2 linked regions of the Homo sapiens genome follow. The protein of the gene in region 1 purifies or fractionates together with the protein of each later gene. This does not show direct contact. Each region holds a gene or a part of one and is shown in the gene's direction. Other genes may lie near its edges. The genes, in order: RASL12 and ARHGEF17.

The links.
Region 2: the proteins of RASL12 (region 1) and ARHGEF17 purify together in Homo sapiens (affinity purification with mass spectrometry; 3 studies listed by BioGRID and IntAct, with this or other methods). This does not show direct contact.

The regions. Positions count from the first base shown.
Region 1 is NC_000015.10:65,054,787-65,066,606, reverse strand, and holds part of RASL12 (ras-like protein family member 12), read left to right. Parts: intron 1-1,333; coding exon 1,334-1,390; intron 1,391-7,188; coding exon 7,189-7,262; intron 7,263-7,989; coding exon 7,990-8,180; intron 8,181-11,332; coding exon 11,333-11,708; 3' UTR 11,709-11,820.
Region 2 is NC_000011.10:73,360,218-73,372,037, forward strand, and holds the end of ARHGEF17 (rho guanine nucleotide exchange factor 17), read left to right. Parts: intron 1-102; coding exon 103-316; intron 317-870; coding exon 871-944; intron 945-1,822; coding exon 1,823-2,022; intron 2,023-2,215; coding exon 2,216-2,517; intron 2,518-2,988; coding exon 2,989-3,238; intron 3,239-3,529; coding exon 3,530-3,616; intron 3,617-3,954; coding exon 3,955-4,022; intron 4,023-4,234; coding exon 4,235-4,383; intron 4,384-5,172; coding exon 5,173-5,347; intron 5,348-5,460; coding exon 5,461-5,730; intron 5,731-7,366; coding exon 7,367-7,563; 3' UTR 7,564-9,171; downstream 9,172-11,820. UniProt on the Homo sapiens protein: Acts as a guanine nucleotide exchange factor (GEF) for RhoA GTPases.

The DNA.
Region 1 (11,820 bases):
ATGTATTCCCTGGGTATTAGTTTGCAAACTGACACCGTTAGGAATCCTAGGAAAGAATTTTAAGGATTTTATTCACAATGTCACTTTTTTTTTTTTAAGACAGTGTCTCTGTCACTCAGGCTGGAGTACAATGGCGCGATCATGACTCACTATAGCCTCAAACTCCTGAGCTCAAGTGATCTTCCCTCTCAGCCTCCTGAGTAGCTAGGACTACAGGCATACCACCATGCCTGGTTAATTTTTCAATTTTTTTAGAGATAACAGTGTCACTGCATTGCCCAGGCTGGTCTCAATCCCAAAGCACTGGAATTACAGGCATCCCATTACTTTTCTTTCTTTCTTTTTTCTTTTTCTTTCTTTCTTTCTATCTTTCTGTCTTTGTTTCTTTCTCTTTTCTTCCTTCCTTTTTCTCTTTCTCTTTTCCCTCCCTCCCTCCTTCCCTTCATCCCTCTCTTCTTCTTTCTTTTTTTTCTTTCTTCTTTCTCTCTCTTTCTTCTTTCTTTCTCTTTCCTTCTCTTTCTTTTATTCTCTCTCTTCTCTACTCTTCTCTTCTCTTCTCTTCTCTACTCTTCTCTTCTCTTCTCTTTTCTTTTCTTTCTTTCCAAACAAGCAGTAGCGAACATTACTTTTTGAGGGTCCAGTATAGTAGTTGGCTGGTCTTTGCTTTATATGGCTACACTCTGAACCAAAGAGAGCTTAATTCTTGAGTTTTACATTCTGCTGAGATATCCATGATGAGTGTAGAGGCCCCAGAGAAAGCCAAGACTTGCGATGTGGGAGACCAGGACCAGAGTGTGTTTCTTCGGGACACAGACCTCACCTGGACCTTACCTGGAAAGCCCAGGCACTTGGGGATTTATACCCTTCCCAAAGATCAACCACTGCAATCAACTCTGCTCTTCCTGTGTTTTTGGCTTGTAGCTAAAGCCTGGAGTAAATAGCCCCACACTTCAGAATCTCTGTGACTTGTCCGGGGTGGGCGACACCTCCCTTCAGTTGAGGTTTCACCAGGCTGACTCTAGGGTAATGGTTGCATGGGTCCTGACCCCTGAGTTCATACCTTCCAAACACCCCTTAGGCTTGCCACTCATTGCTTTCCTTGCCATTAAAAAAAATTCCCACGGTGCAATTAGAGGCACTTGGCTCCCCGTAGTTCTGGTTTCCTTCTGAGCCTTTCAAACCAATTCCTCAGTTCCCTAGCTTCATTCTCTGGGAGAGCTGAGCTTGGTGTCAGCCGGGGATCACAGAGGTTAGATAAGGCCTCCCTTAAACGAGGGGCCAGCAGCTAGACATGGCCGCGGAGATGGAGCCAACCTCTTTCTGCTTCTTGCAGCCCTGACCGTGAAGTTTCTGACCAAGAGGTTTATCAGTGAATATGACCCCAACTTGGGTAAGAAACTACTCCCCGTACCTTCTGCTGCCTGTGCCCCATCTGGAGTGCTCTCCTGGGACCCACCCCGTGGGTGGGCACTGACCAGGACTGCATGTCTGGGGACAGAAGGGAGAAGCCGCCAGGATGACCCAGCCCATGGGGGAAAATGTTTTAAGTGTCAGAAATACCCCTTCCACAGCCCACCCCAGACAACTGGGGGGTTGGCCTAATTCACAGAACTAAGAGAGGCTGATTTACCCTAAAATATGAGGTGTGAAAAAACTTTAAAAAATAAAAATAAACATAGCAAGACATCCACATCCAAACAGGTATTATTCTTGGGCCGGGTGCGGTGGCTAATGCCTGTAATCTCAGCACTTTGGGAGGCTGAGGTGGGTGGATCACCTGAGGTCAGGAGTTAATGACCAGCCTGGCCAACATGGTGAAACTCCGTCTCTAAAAATACAAAAATTAGCTGGGCATAGTGGTGTGTGCCTGTAATCCCAGCTTCTAGGGAGGCTGAGGCAGGAGAACTGCTTGAACCCGGGAGGCGGAGATTGCAGTGAGCCAAGGTCGTGCCACTGCACTCCAGCCTGGGCGACAGAGGGAAACTCTGTCTAAAAAAAAAAAAAACTCAAAAACAAATAGGTATTATTCTTCAAGATGGTCACTCAGTGTTCTCTTCCAGAAAACCTGGGCAGGACATTCGAGAAATTCTCTAGTGGTGCTGGCTTCTGAACCAGTTTTTTAACCGTATGAGAAAACAACTGTTGTTTTCATCGCTGCATCATGGTATATTGGAAAAAGGAACGTTTCGGTGTCAGTCAGAGCTGGGTTTGAATCCTACCTGGCTCTGCTCCTTATTGGCAACCTTGAGCCAGTCAGCTAACCTCTCTGAGCTACTGTTTCCTCATCTGTAAAATGGGCATTAAAAAATAGTTAGAGAATTGCTGTGAGGATTAAAGAAATAGCACATGTAAAAGATCCAGCCTAGTACTTGACCCACAGTAGGCACTCAATGCATTTTTGCTTTTCCTTCCTCCTCAAATGGATTCCCATACACAATAGCTTAGATTCCCTTCTAAAACAAATCAAAGCAGGATTTTATTAGTATAAATGTTGCTTAAAGCTCACATGTATAACATTTGTCTATTGTAAACTGTTCACTGAGAGCCATAAGGTGTCTGGATGATCTTAGCCTTTAGAAAATGGGTGTTGCAGTCTTGGATTATTTTCCCCATTCATAAAAATCAATTAAAGCATTCATGGGACCCCTGAGAGCCCTCCAAAGAAGCCCAAGGCTTTGTGACACAGTGGAAACCCCCTGCGCTCCCTGCAGCAGGCCCCTGATCCAGCGCTCCTGCCGCACCTGGAGGGGAGAGCTCCTTACCCTAGTGGTGCCCAGCCCCTTAGTTCAGGCTGGAGTCCAGCACCAGTGTTGCAGCAGGCAGAGACATCAGGGCTATTTAGTCCCCTTGTTTAAAAAAGCTTTTCCTTAGGTAGCAGAATCCCTTCTTCCAGATTTTAAACAGAACCCCAGGGTGTCAAACAGAGAGAGCAAAGGGGTTCCCATGGGTAAGTCAGGGATGCAGGGCAGGTGACATGGTGACAGTCCCTAAGAGATTTGTTCCTCGAAGCTCTGCTTGACCCCCGGTGCCTTGGCACAGCCCTTCAGTGCTACAGTGGAGGAAACAGGCCCAAGGAGCTGAAGACTCTGGGCCAAGGTCACCCAGAGGAGGCCCTTTGATTAGCAGAGGTCAGCTCCAGAGAGAGGAGGACACAGGATGCAATGGTGCACTGGCCGGCGAGGTGTTGGAAGAGGCCAGAGCATGGAATAGAGATGGGGTGGAGAAACTGAGGACAGAGGTGAGGTGGGAGGACAGGAAGGAAAGGCACACAAGCAGACACAGTGTCTGGGAAAGGACAAGGGGAATTCCCAAGGGCAGGGACTCAAAAGACATATTCGGCCTAATTCAAATATTGCATGGGTCATGCTTATACCAAAAATTATTCCTTTTTTTTTTTTGAGATTCAGATTTAACTGGGCATCTTGTATTTTTCCTGGCATCTCACCTCCAGTCTGTCTTCCTCCCTGCCTTCCAATCGATACTGTCACAGGGTGCCACCGGATGAGCCTATTAGGGTGGTGGTTTGAGCCTCCTGATTGAATAATTTTGGAGTTCTGACCTGGTAGTGGAATGCGTGGGCAGACTGTCTGGGAAGTGGGCAGCCCCACAATGGTCAGTCCCCTTGGTCTGTGGTCTCTCACACTACACTGACAGCCCACGAGTCAGAGAGCCAACCAGACATTCTCCCCTCAGACTCTCTGGGAGGCCAGTGCCACTCCTCGAAGGTTCTGCTAGGAGGGGCCTAAACATTCCGGCCACTGTCCCATTGTTGGTTCCAGCAGCAGCAGAGACAGATGAGAACCTTTCCTTCTGTGGATAAAGGTCTCCACATTCCATTGGGGAGCTAGCCATCAGCAATGCTGGTAAAACAACTCTCTAAGCCCTTCCTAGGTCTTCTGAGAGCCTGAGCTCATTTGGTGAGCCTTGAGGGTGGAGATTCATTCCCATTTCCAGCAGGTAGCACAGTACTAGCTTCAGTGTAGATGAGGGTTTAACTGGGGGGGTGGTAAATTTTGGTTTTAGGATTACCCTTTAAAGAAGAGCTCCTATCACGATCCTCATTTTATAGGTGGAGAAATGGAGGAAGAGAGGGCTCAGTGATTTGCCTTAAGATTATGGAGACCCTCAGGCACAAAGGAAGACGAGGCATGGCTCCAGTTGCTCTCCGCTAGGAGCAGCCTCATGTCATAGAGGGCCTGGAGTCAGAGGTCTGTGTGGCATGGGGCCCTCTGAGCTGTGGTTTCCCCATCTGGAAGATGGGACCAATAGCCTGTGCTCTGGCTGTGTAAGAGTTGCACCGTTTTCTGGGGTGTGGCTGTTAGAGCTGGTAGTAGCTGAGAGATTCAGTGTCTGTGGAAGGGCTTTGCCTGTGCTGAGACCCGCAGGAGTGGGCAGGCGTCTCCAGGAGAATATTCTCCTCTCCCAGAAGGGCTGAGGGTGCCTCATCTGGCTCAGCCAGGGAAGAATGTCAGCTTCTCACTCCTCTTGCTCTCCTCCTCCTCCAGCGAGGACATAGGCACCATTTCTTTTTTTTTTTTTTTTTGGTCACCCAGGCTGGAGTGCAGTGGCGCAATCTCGGCTCACTGCAAGCTCCACCTCCCGGGTTCACACCATTCTCCTGCCTCAGCCTCCCGAGTAGCTGGGACTACAGGTGCCTGCCACCCGAGTAGCTGGTACTACAGGTGCCTGCCACCATGCCCGGCTAATTTTTTTGTATTTTTAGTAGAGACAGGGTTTCACCGTGTTCAGCAGGATGGTCTAGAACTCCTGACCTTGTGATCCGCCCACCTTGGCCTCCCAAAGTGCTGGGATTACAGGTGTGAGCCACCACGCCCGGCCCAACATAGGCACCATTTCTGAGGCAGCACCCTGTATACACTCTGACGTGAGCTTCTGTGGTGCCATTTAAAAATTATTACTATAAATGAGAGGAAAACATCGGCAAATTCAAAACTTTGGGAAATGACTCTTCTCTCTACCCAAAAGTCCACAGGATATTAATTACAACCAGGTGTTAGGAAACCCATATATTTAAGGACACCAGAGTACTCTGAGGCAGGGACTTGATGATAGGAAGTCTGGACATTACTGTGACTGGGAAAGGAGCCCCTCACTCCTGCCCCAGCCCCTGAGGCCTGTCACTTCTTCTATAAAGGGAGGCTGGACAGTACGAGCTCCAAGGCTTCTTCCAGCTCATGCAGGCATGTTCCACATCCCCACCAGACTGGGCGATTCTGGTCTTCCCTTGTACTCTGCCCAGACAGAGCTGGAGGGTGGGCTGATTCACTGAGCAGTCACGGGGTGAGGGGGTCCCATTGTGAACACAGCCCAGCCTGGAAGCCCTGAGTTCAAGTTCCTTCTGCTGATTAGGTGCTGTGTGGCCTTGGGTGAGATCCCTTCTCTGGGCCTCACCTTGCCATCTCTCTACAATGGAGCTAACAGCAACCTTGAAAGGCTGTCATGCTGTGGGCAGGAGACCAAGGTTGAGCTAGCGCCTTTCACTGGGCTGGGCAGGACACTGCGCCCATTGAGGGGAACTCCTAAAAGGGGTGCATCTGACATCTTTGACTGGAAAATAAAGACAGATCTGAAAGCGATGTAAGCATCTAGGGGCAGCTCTTCTTGGACCAAATATAGTTAAACATTTGGAACATAGTTTCCATTAGATTTTTTTTGTCTTTGCATAAGAGCAGCTATTTATCCAAGTCCCCAAAGCAGGCTGGGGACAAGAAGCTGTCTGTGATTCATGCTGGATGCTAGTGGACCTGGAGTGTGTCCAGGCCAGCTTGGCTGCCAGTGGCCCTCAGAAAGAAGTGTTTGACTATAAATTCAGCCAGGGTTGGGGGCGTGCCCTCTCACAGTGGATGCTGCCAGGAAGGCAGAGACCACCCCAGTTCTGCCAAAAGGTGACTTCTTTAGGGTCACTAGGGGCAGGGGACACCTAGGGAAAGGTGATAACCAAGTGCACTCACACATGTGGGCCAATGACACAGGCACAGATTGGGGGTGCAGAGAATGACTGCCAACATGGCCGCAAGGTCCTCTGCATGCCTGGCCACTTGTTGCTTTCTCAGATTTGAGATCATGAGAACCATATATATAAAAAAAGTAACAACTCGAGAAATTCAAATAAGGTCACTAGTTTGGTTCATAGTATGGTATCAATGTAAATTTCTTTTTGCTCATTGGGCTATGGTTATGTAAGGTGATGACACTGGGGGAAGCTGGGTGAAGAGTACACAGGAACTCTACTATTTTACAACTTCTATGTCAGTCTAAAGTTATTTCAAAAGTTAAAAAAAAAATCACCTGGGAATGTGATCCTGCCCTATTAACTTTGGAACACCATCATTCCCACTGCCCTCACCAGGCATGTATGGTGAGCCAGGCCCCATGCCTGGGGGGCCCATCCAGTTCTTACAGAGCCCTGGGAGATGGGACCGTTAAATGAGCTAATGTCAAGCACTTAGCACAGCGCCTGGGACAAAGGAAAGGCTTGGAAACTGTTAGCAATGTTATCACAGTGTTCCCATTTTAAAATGAGGAAACAGCCTCAGAGAGCTGAAGTGATTTGGCCAAGTCACAAAGCTAAAAAGCAGCTGACATTGGGTTTAATACCACATTCTCCAACTGAAAACTTCTGACTACACTAGACTCCCCTGCTGTCATGTTGACAAGGATTATTTGTAAAACCTTCTCGGAACTTCTAAAAGGGGTCTGACTGCCATTCCTTCCATTGTATTGTGTACTTCTCTTTTCCCTTGTCTCTTCTCCCACTGGGGACAGGAGGTTGGTTGAGGGGGAAGAGAGTGGGAAAGCCTGGGGTTCTGGGATAGAGGGGCTAGCAGTGTTGCTCCTGAGCCAGCCTGTGCTGCTAACAGGGTCTAGGGGCCACACACTCGACTCTATCCTGCTGGTTTTGTGTGTGGATCCAGAACACAGACCCACCCCCGAGGTGTGGTCTGTGAGTGACCACTGATGCTGAGCCCTGCAGGTGGAGCAGCATCTCCTTGGTGGGAGGTTCTGCCTGTAGCCTCCATGTGGGTGAGAACCAAGGACTTTCCAGTGGTCCCAGCCCCAGAGCAGCTGCTAAGGTCCCCCCAGGCCACACAGGGGTCTAGCACAGAGGGAAGCTCAAACTTACACCCAAGGCACTGTGTCTGACCTGGCTAACCATCTGTGTTGTAGAGGACACCTACAGCTCCGAGGAGACTGTGGACCACCAGCCTGTCCACCTGAGGGTCATGGACACTGCAGACCTGGTAACATTACCTCCATTACCTATGCACTGCTGTGAGTCAGTATAGCCTCCTGAGAAGTCCTGGCCCAGAGTGCGGGACCTCAGATAGGCATTTAGATGCCTTTTAAGCTCAACTTTGCTGTGTAACCCTGAATGAGGCACTTGACCTCTCTGGGTCTGAATCCTTCCTTTGCCAAATGAGAAGGATGGGACAGGGCCTGGAGAGACATGATGGTTGCTGGCATCTGCTCTGAGATCCTGTGCTGTGGGGCTCTGTGCCTGTGCACACGAGGAGACAGGTGCACACCTGTTTACACAGATGCTCCTGGTGAGAGCCCCTCGGCCCAGGTCTCTCCCACACACAAGTCTCCCCCCATGTCCTCACCACCCCCTGCCAAGGCTGGATGCCAGTTACTCTCAGAAGCCAAAGGGGCAGCATGAACTCAACCCAAAACCAGTGGTGCCCAGGGACAGCCAGGTCTCTGTAGGGACCATGCCAGAGTCTTTGGCTCTGGGCCCAAGGGGCCAAGGTCTCCAAGTCTCTGGCTGGGTGGTGGGAGGGAGGTTCATGAGACAATGTCTCCTTTCACACCAAGCCAAATCCACACTCAAGTGCCCCTTTGAAAGGGCTCTGCTGAGAAACAATATACAAAGACCGGGGAGTGGGGAGGTGGGATTGGGCGGCTCAGGTGAAGGCCTTTACCCCAACCTCCTCTGCCCCCCGGCGGGGCTTCTCACCTTCACCCCAGGACACCCCCAGGAACTGCGAGCGCTACCTGAACTGGGCCCATGCCTTCCTGGTGGTGTACAGCGTCGACAGCCGCCAGAGCTTTGATAGCAGCAGCAGCTACCTGGAGCTGCTTGCCTTGCACGCGAAGGAGACACAGCGCAGCATCCCTGCCCTGCTGCTGGGCAACAAGCTGGACATGGCTCAGTACAGGTGAGCACAGCCTGCTTGGCCGTTATCTCCAGAGCTCGCTTTCTTCACTTGTAAGGTCAGGTGGCATCTTGAGGGATTAGTGGGCTGCTAAGAACAGTCATCCCCTTGAATTGTGGTAGAAGGGATTATATGTTTGTTTGTGTGTGTGTTTGTTTTCTGAGACAGAGTCTCACTGTGTCACCCAGGCTGGAGTGCAATGGCACCATCTCGGCTCACTGCAACCTCCACCTCCTGGGTTCAAGTGATTCTCCTGCCTCAGCCTCCCCAGTAGCTGGGATTACAGGTTCCTGCCACCATGCCAGGCTAATTTTTGTGTTTTTAGTAGAGATGGGGTTTCGCCTTTTTGGCCAGGCTGGTCTTGAACTCCTGAACTCATGATCCGCCTGCCTCAGCCTCCCAAAGTGTGGGATTACAGGCGTGAGCCACCGTGCCCGACCACAGGGATTATGTTGTAAGGGTATGGTAGATGTTGGTCTTCCAGGCAGCCAAGGACTTGAAGGGAAACGCTTCTGGGTCACACAGCAACTGCACCCTGAAAGTCAGAAGAGTGGCCACTCCTTCCGCGCTCTTGGGTCTCTGTGGATTCTCTTGGACTCACCCTTCTTGCATGAATCTATCTGACCTTCCGATCTCACTCCCAGCAGCTGACTGGTCTAGTGCCCAATTCCAATTCTAAGGAGAGAGGCTCTGATGGGCTCCTTGGTCAGGTGTCTGCTCTGGTCCAATCGGCTCTCACCTCACCCAGACGCAGCCTCCCACTCTCACTCCCACAGTTGGCTGGGCTGAGGGCAGGTTCTCTTAGAAAGGGTTGGACTCGAATCGGAGGTCAGAGACTGGGCCAGAGGATGCATTACTGAAGAATACTGCAGCCATATTTTGCTTGGCTGGCATAGTGTCTTAAAAGACCTAGAATTGGAATGCTTTGAGGTGGGGCACGCTCTCTCCAGCCGACCCCAGGCCTCACCACTCCCCGTGGTTTACCTCCACCCTTTCCACACATTCAAGTTGCCCGCCTGGCCCTGAAGCATTTGACACTGTGATGCCTGAACTTGATGAGTAATGCCACTGGATTTCTCCAGCACTGACCTTTGTCCTCTGTGGCCAGTCTACCTGCAAGGGATAGCCCCTTCCACCAGCCACTCATCCCTCCCTGTTCACGGTTGGTCAGTCCTGCTGCCCTAGGCCCCAAGGGCACATTGACTGGTGTTAGCAAGGAAGGGACCCTTTGTTTAGAACGGGTCAGATGGGCCGTGGGAAAAAGAGAGGTGTGGGACCGTGAAAGGGGACTATGGTGAGAGGCCTTCAAAGGTGGCCAAGCCCTCAGACCTAGGCAAATTGTGTCTCAGAGAATGAGGGAAGTCATGTGACCTGAAAGCTGCTGAAGGTAGTCTTTGAGGAATTGCAGACCCTCTTAGGGGTCAGAAGACTGGATTGTGAGTAGGCCAGTTTTCAGTACAGGGAAAAAAGCACAGATCACTCTTTTGACCCCAATCTTTGCCAAAGGGATTGTCTAAAATGGTTTGGGAGCAAATAACAAAGCATACATGCTCAAATGAAGCTGATCCCACCCGTTCCCTAAAAACAACTCAGGACAATGTATTCCTATTTCATTCTTCGATCAAGTCCCAAGTTTAGTAGATTAGGATTCTGGGAAGCACAGGAAGTCTAACTTTTAGCTGAGCATTGGCCATTGTCTCCCACGACTGTCTCACTGTTAAAAGGGTAAAATGTCGGTTAGGTTGATGCTTCCCAAGCCACTGATAAAATTTTCCCTAGGATGCAACAAAATAAGAAAAAGGACAATGTTCTGTGCCTCTGTCACCCACTCACACACATGCACGCACACATGGGGTTTGTGTTTGTGAAAATTCATTATTCAAGCCCCCACAATGACAAAGTTGCAGATTCAAGCTCATCATAAAAGCAAATAATAGCAAGTGTTCTTTCCAAAAGGGTTCCTCAGGAAGCGGTGAGCTTACTGGCACCACGGCACCCAGCCCTGGGTGGGGAATAGATCCGATGCCTCTGACTCTTTTTTGTCCCAGTTACTCACTCTCTCTGAGACCGCGTGCCTCACCATGGAGTGGCACTCTGGGAAGCTAGCCCACTCTCAGCCCCTGCTCCTGCCAGGTCAGCCTTGGGCTCAGAAACTTTTCCCACCATGGCCCACTCGAGTGCCTCCTCTCATCTAGTGGCTGTGCCATTATCCTCGGGAATGGGCAGCGGGACAGCTCAGCAGTAGGTCAGGAAGATCCAGCCAGTGGAGTCTTGGCCCCAAGATCTCAGGGACCCCCCCATCTCTTCCCTCTTGTAGACATCCGACCTATGCAAGGCCAGTCTTCTTTTTCTTCCCGCCTCGATTCCCATGGCTTTCAGGTCAGAAGCCTCCAGGACCTTCCCAAGTTCCGGATATTCTATCCTCCCTTCACGGGAGGTGGTGTAGGACCAAGGCAGAATAGGTGTTGCCCCCTCTCTCCTTTTGCCCTCCTCACCATGAAATGTTGTCCCCCCTGCCCTCTCCTGCCTCTGCCCTGGTTTTATTATTTGCTTTTATGATGAGCTTGAATCTGCAACTTTGTCATTGTGAGGGCTTGAATAATGAATTTTCACAAACACAAACCCCAGGAGCCCTGAGAACTCTGCCAACCACAGGCTTCTGGAGTCACCTCTGTGGTCTAACCCTTCAGTCCAAACGACTGCTTCTCTCTAGAGCTGATCCCACAAGCCAGAGCTGTGGGTGGCCTGTTTCCTGCCCCAGGGACCCACGATGGGGTAGAGAAGAGATGGGGCTGGGAATGGCCTGCTTCCTCCAGCCACAGGCAGGGTCTAGCATAGGGGATTTGGAGTAGCTTCTTACCCTTACCCTCATCCCAAAATTCTGGCCTGGGTGACATCAGCTACCATTTATTGAGCACTGACTCTGTGCCAGGTACTGTGCTAAGCACTTGAAACAAATTGTCTTTCGTAATCCTAACAACCCTGAGAGGCAGAGGGCAGTAACCCACTGTACTGATAAGAACGCTGAGACTCAGAGAGGTGAAGATGACCCCAGGCCACCCAGCTAGTCCATGGGGCGCTGGGTGTAGGAGCTGGTCTGCCTGACTTGGCACAGCCTGCTCCTAACTCCCTGCCTCACACTGCTTCCTCACCAGGCAAGTCACCAAGGCAGAGGGTGTGGCTTTGGCAGGCAGGTTTGGGTGCCTGTTTTTCGAGGTCTCTGCCTGTCTGGACTTTGAGCACGTGCAGCATGTCTTCCACGAGGCAGTGCGAGAGGCACGGCGGGAGCTGGAGAAGAGCCCCCTGACCCGGCCCCTCTTCATCTCCGAGGAGAGGGCCCTGCCCCACCAGGCCCCGCTCACCGCGCGGCATGGGCTGGCCAGCTGCACCTTCAACACGCTCTCCACCATCAACCTGAAGGAGATGCCCACTGTGGCCCAGGCCAAGCTGGTCACCGTGAAGTCATCCCGGGCCCAGAGCAAGCGCAAGGCGCCTACCCTGACTCTCCTGAAGGGCTTCAAGATCTTCTGAGGCCCCCTCCCCAGGAAGCCTAGGCTCGGTGGCTGGACAGGACTGCAGCAGGACAGGGACTGGCTTCTCACCACCAGCCTTTCCGTCTGATGGACAGCAGACCCCGCCTCCA
Region 2 (11,820 bases), on another chromosome or scaffold:
TCACTTGCTGTCTAAGGAGAGAGGCAGGTCCCCACACATTAAGGGCAGGTGCAGGCTCTGGTGAGATGCTGGGGCCTGAGGCCTGGGCCCTCTTCCCCACAGAGCCTGGACGATGCACTGCGGGACCTCTCAGCTGCCATGCACCGGGACCTGTCGGAGAAGCAGGCGCTGTGCTACGCGCTTTCCTTCCCGCCAACCAAGCTGGAGCTGTGCGCCACTCGGCCCGAGGGCACCGACTCCTACATTTTTGAGTTCCCTCACCCTGACGCCCGCCTTGGTTTTGAACAGGCCTTCGATGAGGCCAAGAGGAAGCTGGGTAAGCCAAGGCACATGTTGGCCCTCTCCTCCTAGAGCTTCCAGGCAGGAGGCCAGAGGCATCTCACAGCTGTCTGTGACTTCAGGAGCCAGAACCGCAGTGCCCTGTGCTCCGGCTCCACCTGGTGGGGAGGGGGGCTTCTGCAGTGAAACATCAGACTGAATAATAGCTGTGGCCTCCCTGGCAGGGAGGGGATTCCATGGATAGGGTCTCACTGTCTGCTGGACCTGCCCCATAGTGGGCACCGATAGCCAAGACCCTCGCCATACCCTCCCTACACACACTCTGAGCAGGGCTGGATCAGGGAAAGCGATTGATCAGGGTTCATGGCTTAGAAGATCCACAGAGACCTCTGGGTCTAACCCCAAGACAATACACATGGGAAAAGATTGAGGCCAGGAGCAACTGCCTTATTCTAATGTGGCTGGGATCAGGCCTTCCCCTAAAGAGACCCTGAGGGGCAGGGGAGGAAGGGGAATGGGGCAGGGGCAGGACCAGGGTGAGATGGATGCTATGCTAAGCAGGGTCCGTCTGTCTGTCCATCTCCACTACAGCATCCAGCAAAAGCTGTCTAGACCCTGAGTTCCTGAAGGCCATCCCCATCATGAAAACCCGCAGTGGCATGCAGGTATGTCTGCATCTGGGTCACTTGGGTACATGTTTTCAAAGCCAGCAGGTGTTCATGAATTTTTGTGTACGACATTGTGTATATGCCGTGAACATTGCTATTGCTCCTTATGTCTTGGAGAATTCAGCTCTCTGTACATGTGTGTGGGTGCTGCATATGTATTACATGTACACATGTATATGGGTATGCTTCGTGCATATCTGTATCTGTGCATGTGAACAAAGGTTATATGAATGATGGGAAGTAGCTTCATTTATGTGCTTGTATGAGGCTGCATACATATGTACAGAGGTTACCAGCATCACATTTTTTCTATGCATGTATCCATGATTATATCTGGGGATATGTGTGTGTACATGTAGGCATGATGCCTGTATCCCATAGGCATGAGTGCATTTGATGTGTAGAGGGTCACATGGGCAAGGTGCGGTGGCTTACGTCTGTAATTCCAGTACTTTGTGGGGCCAAGTTAGGAGGATCACATGAACCTAAAAGTTCAAGACCAGGCTAGGCAAGACCCTATCTCTACAAAAAATTCAAAAATTATCCACGTTTAGTGGCGCGCCCCTGTGGTCCCAGTTACTTAGGAGGCTGAGGTGGGAGGATTGCTTGAGCCCTGGAGGTCAAAGCTGCAGTGAGCCATGAACCCACCACTGCACCCCAGCCTGGGAGACAAAGCAAGAACCAATCCAAAAAAAAAAAAAAGGGTCCTGTGCCGCGTGTATGTGTACGCGTGTGTAGAAGGGTGTATAGGGCATCCACACACACACACCCATGCAGGCCTGCCTCCCTCCATTCTGCCGGGGTTTCCCAGGAGTGGGGAATGCTGGCAGCAGTTCCTCCATTCACCTTCTCCTGTCCATTGGCGCCTCCTGCAGTTCTCCTGTGCGGCTCCCACCCTGAACAGCTGCCCGGAGCCCTCGCCTGAGGTATGGGTCTGCAACAGCGACGGCTACGTGGGCCAGGTGTGCCTGCTGAGCCTGCGCGCCGAGCCGGACGTGGAGGCCTGCATCGCCGTCTGTTCCGCCCGCATCCTCTGCATCGGGGCGGTGCCCGGGCTGCAGCCTCGCTGCCACCGGTGAGGCCTGGGCGGCGGGGTGGGCGGCACCGCGGGCCTGGGAGAACCAACCCCTGTCCCAGCACACTCTCAGGCCGCCCCGGCGTGGTTGTGGGCGGGGCCCGGCGAGTGTGGGCGGGGTCGGTGGGCGTGTCCACCACCGGGGCCCCGTCTGGCTCGTAGCTGCTGTCATCCTCACTCCGTCTTCTCGCAGGGAGCCTCCTCCGTCGCTGAGGAGTCCTCCAGAGACGGCACCGGAGCCCGCCGGGCCGGAGCTGGACGTCGAGGCCGCTGCAGACGAGGAAGCCGCGACGCTCGCGGAGCCGGGGCCGCAGCCCTGCCTTCACATCTCCATTGCAGGCTCGGGCTTGGAGATGACGCCGGGCCTCGGCGAGGGTGACCCCCGCCCAGAGCTGGTGCCCTTTGACAGTGACTCTGACGATGAGTCTTCGCCCAGCCCCTCGGGGACGCTGCAGAGCCAGGCCAGCCGGTCCACCATCTCCTCCAGCTTTGGCAGTGAGCTTTGGCCATCTCCTCCAACTTGGCCTTGGCAGGCAGGGTGGACTGCCCAGAGGAGGGGGAGAGGAGGGACCAGTGTAGGGCAAAGGCATGGCGTCAGACCTCAGGATGTTAGCACACAGAGCAATGAGGGCAGGGGATGTGACACCAAGGATCCAGAGGACAGTGGGACAGTCAGGCGGGATCATGAAGACCCTGGAGCACTCAGCTAAGGAAGATGGGGTGCTGGTGGAGTGGGGACCCACGGTGTGGCCACTGGGTCTGAGGGGCCAGGCAAGATCAAGGATTCTGTAGTGCTGAGCTGTCGGTGAGCAGGGCAGCAGGGCAGCAGACCGGAGCAGGCCGGGGAAGAACAGCTTTGAGAGGCCTTCCGGAGGGGCATGGCCAGGAGGGATGCATGGCCTAGAAAGATATCAGGTCCCAGGCCTGGCAGAGGGAAATGGAGACAGAGACCTTTGTCTCCCTCAGATGAGGAGACCCCGAGTTCCAAGGAGGCCACGGCAGAGACCACCAGCTCAGAGGAGGAGCAGGAGCCAGGCTTCCTGCCACTGTCTGGCTCCTTTGGGCCTGGTGGTCCCTGCGGCACCAGCCCAATGGATGGGAGAGCCCTTCGCCGCTCCAGCCACGGCTCCTTCACCCGGGGCAGCCTTGAGGACCTGCTGAGTGTCGACCCTGAGGCCTACCAGAGCTCCGTGTGGCTGGGCACTGAGGATGGCTGGTAGGGACAGGGGAGGGACTAGGGACACAGTGCCAGAACTCTGAGCTCCCTGCTCTGGAAATCATGTGGTCCCCTGGAGCCAAGGCAGGAGGGCTTTGGGTCACACCTCAGGGGTACTGCTGACCAGGGATGTCAGTGGGTCTGACAATCCCAGGGAGGCTGTGGGACCTCAGTACCTTGGGCAGGCACCCAGCATTGAAGACGTGGTGCTAGGGGCAAAGAGGTGGAGGGATGACTCCAGGGGCTGGTGTGCCCCAAGCATTTGTCCCAGGTGCATACCCCGATCCACAGTGTCCACGTGTACCAGTCCTCCGACAGCATCCGTGACCGCAGGAACAGCATGAAGCTCCAGCATGCGGCCTCTGTGACCTGCATCTTGTAAGGCCCCAGGGTGGCCCTTCCTATCTAGACTCTTCTCAGCCACACGTGCAGGCCTCCTTCTGTTCATCTGGTCCCCCTGCTCTACTGTCCCTCCTCTGTGTGGAGGCTGGAAGCCAGAGGCCTGGCCCTAGGCTAGCTGTGCCTCTTACACACTGTGTGAGCTCGGGCAAGTCACCCCCTTTTCTTAGCCTCAGGCAACCCCCACCTGGAGAACAAGGGGTGGGAAGAGGTGGCCTCTCGGGAGCCATACCCATTCTATCTGTGGTTCCCCTGGTCCTGGGTGACCCACTTTGGCTGCCTGAACTCCCTTACTGCTTCCTCTTTTCCCTACCCAGGTATCTGAATAACCAGGTGTTTGTGTCTCTGGCCAATGGAGAGCTTGTGGTCTACCAAAGGGAAGCAGGTGAGTATCTGCCCTCCCCCACACCCTGCCCCTGTCCCCTTACTGGTGTTGGGGCTCTCTCCTGGAGATGTGGCTTTGGGCAACTCCCAGGCCCTCTGTGGGCCTTGGTTTCTTTGCTTATAAAAGGGGAATGTTAACATCTCATTTCAGGGGAGACCGAGGCTCAAATTTAGAACTGGAGTGAATTTCCTGTTTTCTTTACCCCACTCCAGGCCATTTCTGGGACCCCCAGAACTTCAAATCAGTGACCTTGGGCACCCAGGGGAGCCCCATCACCAAGATGGTATCTGTGGGTGGGCGGCTGTGGTGTGGCTGCCAGAACCGAGTCCTTGTCCTGAGCCCTGACACGCTGCAGCTGGAGGTAGCAGGGGGTGGGGGAATGGAATTGGTGCCATGGGATGAGCTAGGTCCGTGTGACAGGGAGATGGAGACCATGGTAGGGGCATAAGCAGCATCCAGCAGAGGGCTAGGGCCTTCCTCTGACCACAGAGTGACGCTGGCCAGTCCCTGTCCTCCTTCGATCCTCATTTCTTCTGTAGCTGATGAGGAATACAGTAAGTGTCCCATATACATTAGGAATCTTATTCATCCTCCTGCCCACCCTATCTCTCAACTCAGGTTTTAGGGTCCTTTGGGGATAGGACAAGAGTCCTTTCTGATGTCAACATCCATTAGCATTAGACTCTGGCATTTATTGCTGCACATGTCACTTGCACACATGTCAGAAGTATCCAGGGGCAACGGGTTCCCTTAATTTCCCTCACTTATTCCATTGTTGGCTGGGCAGGAGTCCAAAGCCCTGGGTTCAGGCCCCAGCTCTGTGACTGACTTGCTGTGTGACCTTTCCCTTCTAGGCTTCAGCTTCCCCACCTGTCCAGGGGGAGGCCAGTGACTGATTTTAGAACCCTTTAAGCATTGAAGTTCTCTGATCCTTAAATCACTCAAGTTTAATGGGGAAAAAGCACCTCCATTGTAATTCCTGAGAACTAAGTTGGGAGGTGCTGGTGAAACCAAGCTTCGAAAGGTTAATCAGACCAAGGACCAACGCTAGTGTGAGTTGTGAGGGATGGACACTGGTGAAGCTCCAGGCTAGGGTGGGCCAAGGGAGGCAGGCCTGCCAATGACCCATCTTCTCCCCCGCCTTCCCCAGCACATGTTTTACGTGGGTCAGGATTCAAGCCGCTGCGTGGCTTGCATGGTGGACTCCAGCCTGGGTGTGTGGGTGACATTGAAAGGTAGTGCCCACGTGTGTCTCTACCATCCAGACACCTTTGAGCAGCTGGCAGAAGTAGACGTCACTCCTCCCGTGCACAGGATGCTGGCAGGTACTGACCTCAAACTACCACAGCACCCTCCTTGGAGCCTTTCTGCCCGATCGTAGAGGCGGCTGAGCCAGGGCCAGAATTCAGCCCCAGCTGTGGTCTGTCTCCCACCCCAGGCTCGGATGCCATCATCCGGCAGCACAAGGCTGCCTGTCTGCGAATCACAGCGCTGCTGGTGTGTGAGGAGCTGCTGTGGGTGGGCACCAGTGCTGGTGTCGTCCTCACCATGCCCACTTCGCCCGGTACTGTCAGCTGCCCACGGGCACCACTCAGTCCCACAGGCCTCGGCCAGGGACACACCGGCCACGTCCGCTTCTTGGCTGCAGTCCAGCTGCCAGATGGCTTCAACCTGCTCTGCCCAACCCCACCACCTCCCCCAGACACAGGTGGGTCAGTGCATCATACCCCAAGCTAGGGATCATGGACATTTGGTTTAGGACTCCCCACTATCCTGCCAGAAGAGCTTTCAAGAGGGAGGAAAAGTGTCACATAGAGCTGGAGGTGGCATATGTGACAGGAAATACACCACGGAAGTGTCCAAATGAAATCTAGGATAGTTGTGTGTGTGTGTGTGTGTGTGCGCACCTGCATGTGTTGTGTGTATATAAAGTTCTATCCAGAGAAATGTCATGAGAGACAGGGAGGGAACTATAACCTAAGAGGTAGAATATGTCACAAATAGAATATGTATATAGAAAATATGTCCTGTTGTATATATTTCCTATATGCACCAGGAAATAGCACAGGACTAGAAATGATATATAGGGCAGGAAGTGGAATCAGGAAGTGATGCACAGAGCAGGAAATAGAAATAGCAACAGAAAACAACATAGAATGGCACTAGCACAGAAAATGGACTGATAATTAGAAAGTGAAACAGCCGGGTGCCAGGCGCGGTGGCTCACACCTGTAATCCCAGCAGTTTGGGAGGATGAGGTGGGAGGATCGCTTGAGCCCAGGAGTTCAGGACCCAGCCTGGGCAACATGGTGAGACACCATCTCTACAAAAAATACAAAAATTAGCCATGTGTGGTGGCACACACCTGTGGTTCCAGCTGCTCAGGAGGCTGAGCTGAGGTGGGAGACTCACTTGAGCCCAGGGAAGTCGAGGCTGCAGTCAGCAGAGATTGCACCACTGCACCCCAGCCTGGGTGACAGAGTGATACCCTGTCTCAAAAAAATAAAAATAAAAATATGGCCGGGCGTGGTGGCTGACACCTGTAATCCCAGCACTTTGAGAGGTTGAAGGGGGTGGATCACCTGAGGTCAGGAGTTCGAGACCAGCCTGGCCAACATGGTGAAAACCCATCTCTACTAAAAATACAAAAACTAGCTGGGTGTGGTGGCGGGCGCCTGTAATCCCAGCTACTCGGGAGGCTGAAGCAGGAGAATCACTTGAACCAGGGAGGCGGAGGTTGCAGTGAGCCAAGAGTATGTGCCATTGCACTCCAGCCCAGGCAACAAGAGCAAAATTCCGTCTCAAAAAAAAAAGTGAAACAGCAGGAAATGAGGTACATCAGGAGGCCACAACCAGAAAAGTCTTGCTTTGGCAGGACAAGAAATGATATTCCCAAGAGGAAGTGGCTGTGGAAATCAGGAAGCAATAAAGCCTCGGGTCAGGAGTTGTCTGGGTTCACAGAAGACTTAAGCTACCTGGGAAAGGGCTGTTGGAAGTAGGAGGCTTATTTAATGCAAGGACGTTGCGTGCAGTAATCAAGAGAGATAGAAAGTGGCATCTTACAGGGCACTTACATTGTAAAAAGAAAAAAATCAGAAGTGGCGTCACCTTGGGAAATTATGTGACTCCTGACTAGAGATTACAGATGGGACATAAGAAGTCTGGCTGCCAAGAAGTGGGCATTTCTTTCTAAATAAGTTCCTAGCTAACAGAAAGTGGGATTCCCCCATAGGAAGTGTGCACATCTTCCTTCCTATCTTCTGGGGTGTGGGAATTCAGGCCCCGATGGGACAGTGAAGCCTCCATTCGCCCCCAAGCTGACAGATCCTCCCCTCTGCCCCCAGGCCCCGAGAAGCTGCCATCACTGGAGCACCGGGACTCCCCTTGGCACCGAGGCCCCGCCCCTGCCAGGCCTAAAATGCTGGTTATCAGTGGAGGTGATGGCTATGAGGACTTCCGACTCAGCAGTGGGGGCGGCAGCAGCAGTGAGACTGTGGGTCGAGACGACAGCACAAACCACCTCCTCCTGTGGAGGGTGTGACCCTGTCTGCCGTGGCCCAGGACTCGCCCGCCCACCTGCCTTCAGCCTGCTTGCCTCTCCCTAGCCCACACGCAGACTTTGACCAGGAGTATCCAGCCAGGGGCACACATGTGCCTGCGTGGGCTCTGCCTTGTCTTCGCGGAAGCATTCCTGATGGAACACCCACTGGCCAGCCAGGCCATGGCTTCTCCCGACCCTCTGGCTGCCCCGGTGCTTCCAGTCATGATCGGGTGGGGGACATGTGGGCTGACCAGGACCTCTGACCCTGGAGCTTCTACCAAAGACACAGCTGGGTCTGGACCCCACGGGGCTGGGGAGGGCCATGTGCAATATTTGGAGGGTTTTCTGGAGGGCAGCAGGAAGGCTGGGGAATTCCCCATGTACAGTATTTATGTTTCTTTTTAGATGTGTACCTTCCCAAGCACTTATTTATGCAGTGACCTGGTCACCTGGGGTGGGGGTGATTTGAGGAAATGACATGAGGAAAAGAAACCTATTCCTGCCCTGGGGACCACCCTGGGACTCTAACCAAGCCTTCCTGGAGGGACCCATGCGCCCCTGAGCCCCATTCCATTCATACAGACACACACGTACGCACACTGCATGTCCAAGGCCCTAAACATTGCCCGTTGACATAAACTTTCCAGGGCCCCAGCCTGATGGGGCTGCCCTCAGTCCTCTAGATCAAGATGCTGACTATTAGGGGGCAGTGATTGCCATCTGGGGACCTGTCAGGCTTTGTCATTTCCCAGTTTGTTGGTGGTGCCTTTAGTGGTTCCCTAATTTGGGAACACTGATGGGGCCTTGGACAGGGCTTTCTCTCAGGTAGGAGAAATGGGCCCATGATCTCCTCACAGTCGCCCCCAGTCCTTGGCCCTGCTTCCCTGTGTCTCATGCACTGGCACATATGGTCACCTTGGAGGGCAGACCTAGGAGCCCCTCTGACCACTGAATCCGTCTCCACACCCCTTCTGCCAAGGGAAGCCCCTTCAGGAAGGACCCCCCAAAGCTGAGGGGCTGAATGTAGCCTTTTCAACAGAGAAGGCTCCCACTTGAGAGCAGCCTCTACCTGACCCCCTGGACCACAGAGAGCCACTCTGACCCTCAGCCCCCTCGCTTCTTCAGCTAAAACTCCAAAGGTTTGGTTTCAGATGGGGTTTGTTTTGTTCTGTTTGGTTTTGGTTTTGTTTGGGGTGGGTGGGTCATTGCGGTCTTAGATTATGTTTCTCTTGCTACCAAACAGTCATGTATTAACTCTCTTTGGATGATGAAGTTTAAAGAGTCAATAAATAGAAACACCAGATGACTGCATTGGTGGCCACAGTGGCCTCCTGTCAGCAACCTCAGGGCTCAGTCTCCCTGGCCACATGGGCCTTCCGACGTCCACACACTTGGGAAGAAGGGAGGCCTTGGAGACCCAGAAGAGTGCTGGACGGCGAGGTTGCCACGATTTGCTGTGTTACCTGGGCAGGTGGCTGGGCTGCAGTTTCCTCATCAGGAAAATAAAGGGGTTGTACCAGTTCAGTGCTTTGTAACCAGGGTTACATGGTAGAATCCCTTGCAGATGACATGTAAATGCAGAAACATGATTCGTAACTTATTTACGTATTAATTGAGAGCTTCTGAGTCAGTGGGCCTGGATGGAGCTTGGGAATCTGAAGCTGACATGCTCCAGGTAAAGAGCCAGGACCCCTGTTGAGCCTGTCTACGGCTCCTCCAGGAAACAATGTTCTCCAGCAAAGCCTCAGCTGGAGAACCCTGATGAAGGCCAAGGCCCTGCTCCAACCCTCTGAAGTGTTTGGAGCAGGGATAGAATCCAAGTCTGTCTGATTTCTGGTCTGAAGAGGTCTGTCATTAAATCAGACACAAGAACGCACAGGCCCAGCAACATGGGACTATTCTGTGCAAGGACAGAGAGCCCTCCAGACCAGAGTGCACCTGCAGAACTAGAGGTGGCCATCACTAGAAGGCATGTCGTGCCTCAGCTCTGCTACACGCACGAACGTTTCCAGCCTAAATGACTGACTTTTGAGTCAGCCCCTGAAGGGGCATGCAAGCTCATGCTCTGCAAACTGGCAGCACACCTCTCAGGGGTCTGCTGGGTCCTCAACACCACAGGACGGGCATGGACCGTCTCCGTGCAGCATCATTTTACTGGGGCTATCTGGGGAGGAAGGGATTCTATTAATAAGCACAGATATATTATGGAGTAGGAGGCATCATTCATGTGGAATATATAACGAAACAAAGCATTAGAAGAAACACAGGCTTTGAAGCTGGACAGACCTTGTTTGAGATCTTGACTTTGCCGCTAACTAGCTATGTGCCTTTGGGCAAGTTGTATCCCCTCTGAGCCTCCATTTCCTCACGTGTGAAATGAGGCTGATGATCCCTTCCCGAACAGGACTGCTGCTTGGCGTGCACAGGTCTTTGGATTGCAAGAAAGAGATTCATTTTGCTTGTGAACTAGAAGGGTGCTTATTAGTGAAGATGTGAGCTGGCAGCAAGGAGCTGTCACAGGGCACTGTGGCCCAGACATCAGAGCTGCATCTCAGGACATCTGGCCTCTCCACTTGAGTCGCCAGTGCCTCCCACACTGCCAGTCAGTTGCTGTTCCACTGCTTTCCAGCTTCTGCTGCCTCAGGGCCTCCGCCTCCTCCACTCGGAGGACCCTGGGCAGACTTCAGTTTTAGCACAAGATACCCAAGACCAGATCCTCACCACTTCCCCGACTCAAGTGCCTCAGTAAGAATGGGCTTGGCCCAGCCCACTGTTACTTAGAGGCCCACATTCCAGGGCACTGGCCAGCCTGTGGACAGCCCGGACCCCATCAGCTGTGGGCAGGGAGGCCCTGGAATGAGCATCAGACCCCAGGCTCCCGGCCCAGGGGAGGCTCCTGGAAGGATTACCTCCTCTGAAGCAGTGGTTCTCAGCCTGGGATGCACATTATGATCATGAGGGCCTAGGCCAATTCCAAGCCAATTAAATCTGAACTTTGAGGGTGGGACCCAGGTGTCTATATGTTTTTCAGAAACCTTTAGTTGAAGTATAACATTTATACAAAAAAGGACATAAAAAAGGACCCAGCGTGATGGGTATTCATAAAGTGAACACACCCAGGTCAAGGAACAGAAAATCTCATCACCCCAGAAGCTCCCCTTAGACCTCCTTCTGGTCTGCCCTCCAAGGGTAACCACCACCCCGGCTTCTGACACCATGATCTAGCTTCACCAGCCAAGGTAGAGAACTGCTGCTGTAAAGGGAATGACTATGGTTAGCCACTGGTGTGGGGGAAAGTGGGGCTTGGGTTTGATGTTAAGAGGGAACGCCAGCCTGGCCAACATGGAGAAACCCCATCTCTACAAAAAATACAAAAGTTAGCCAGGCGTGGTGGCGTGCACCTGTGGTCATAGCGACTTGGGAGGCTGAGGCGGAGAATTGCTTTAACCCAGGAGGCCAAGGTTGCAGTGAGCCGAGGTTACACAGCACCCCATCCTGGGTGACAGAGGGAGACTCTGTCTCAAAAAAAAAAAAAGAACAGCTCAAACCAAGGCAAGGAGGGGTAGAGGAGCCTGGTGCAGGCCCAGGTGGATGGGGAAAGAGGAAAAGGCAGGGGCGCCTAGATTGGGAGCTCCGTGAGCGTGGGATTTTGTTCTTTGTTCCATCCCCAGGCCTGCCACAGTGCGTGACACACAGTAGATGCTCAGTAAATATTTGTTGAATTAAATCTGGAGAATTCAGGTGAGAACCAACTCTAGGTCTTGAATGCCACGAAACAATAAACCCAGCTTCCACTTAGTGTTTGCTGCAAGCCAGGAGCATGGATCATCTCGAATCCTCACAATGGTCCTGGGAGGTTGATACCATTATTACCCTCCTTTTCAGATGAGGAAACTGAGGTTCAGAGAGGTTAGATGCCTTCCTCAAGGTCACCTAACCACTAATTGATAGAACCTGGAATCTGTCTGCTCAGGTCTCTGTATCTCATGGAAGAGGAGGGCTGGCCTGGTGTGGCTGGAGGACAGGAGAGACAGCCTGAGCACCCAGAGTCACATGTAGTCACTCATGAGGCTGGACTAATGTTCCTTAGACCAGCCCTGGGAAGGGGATCCAGATCCCAGATGAGTGAGGAGAGTCAAAGCCAGAGGCCATCTCCTCTTCAAGGGAGTTCTCCAGGTGGTCCCTTGGGTTTGGGACAGGGGTCAGGGTTTAGCTAGACCATCTATCTAATGGAAAAGATGAGGCACAGAGAGGGTC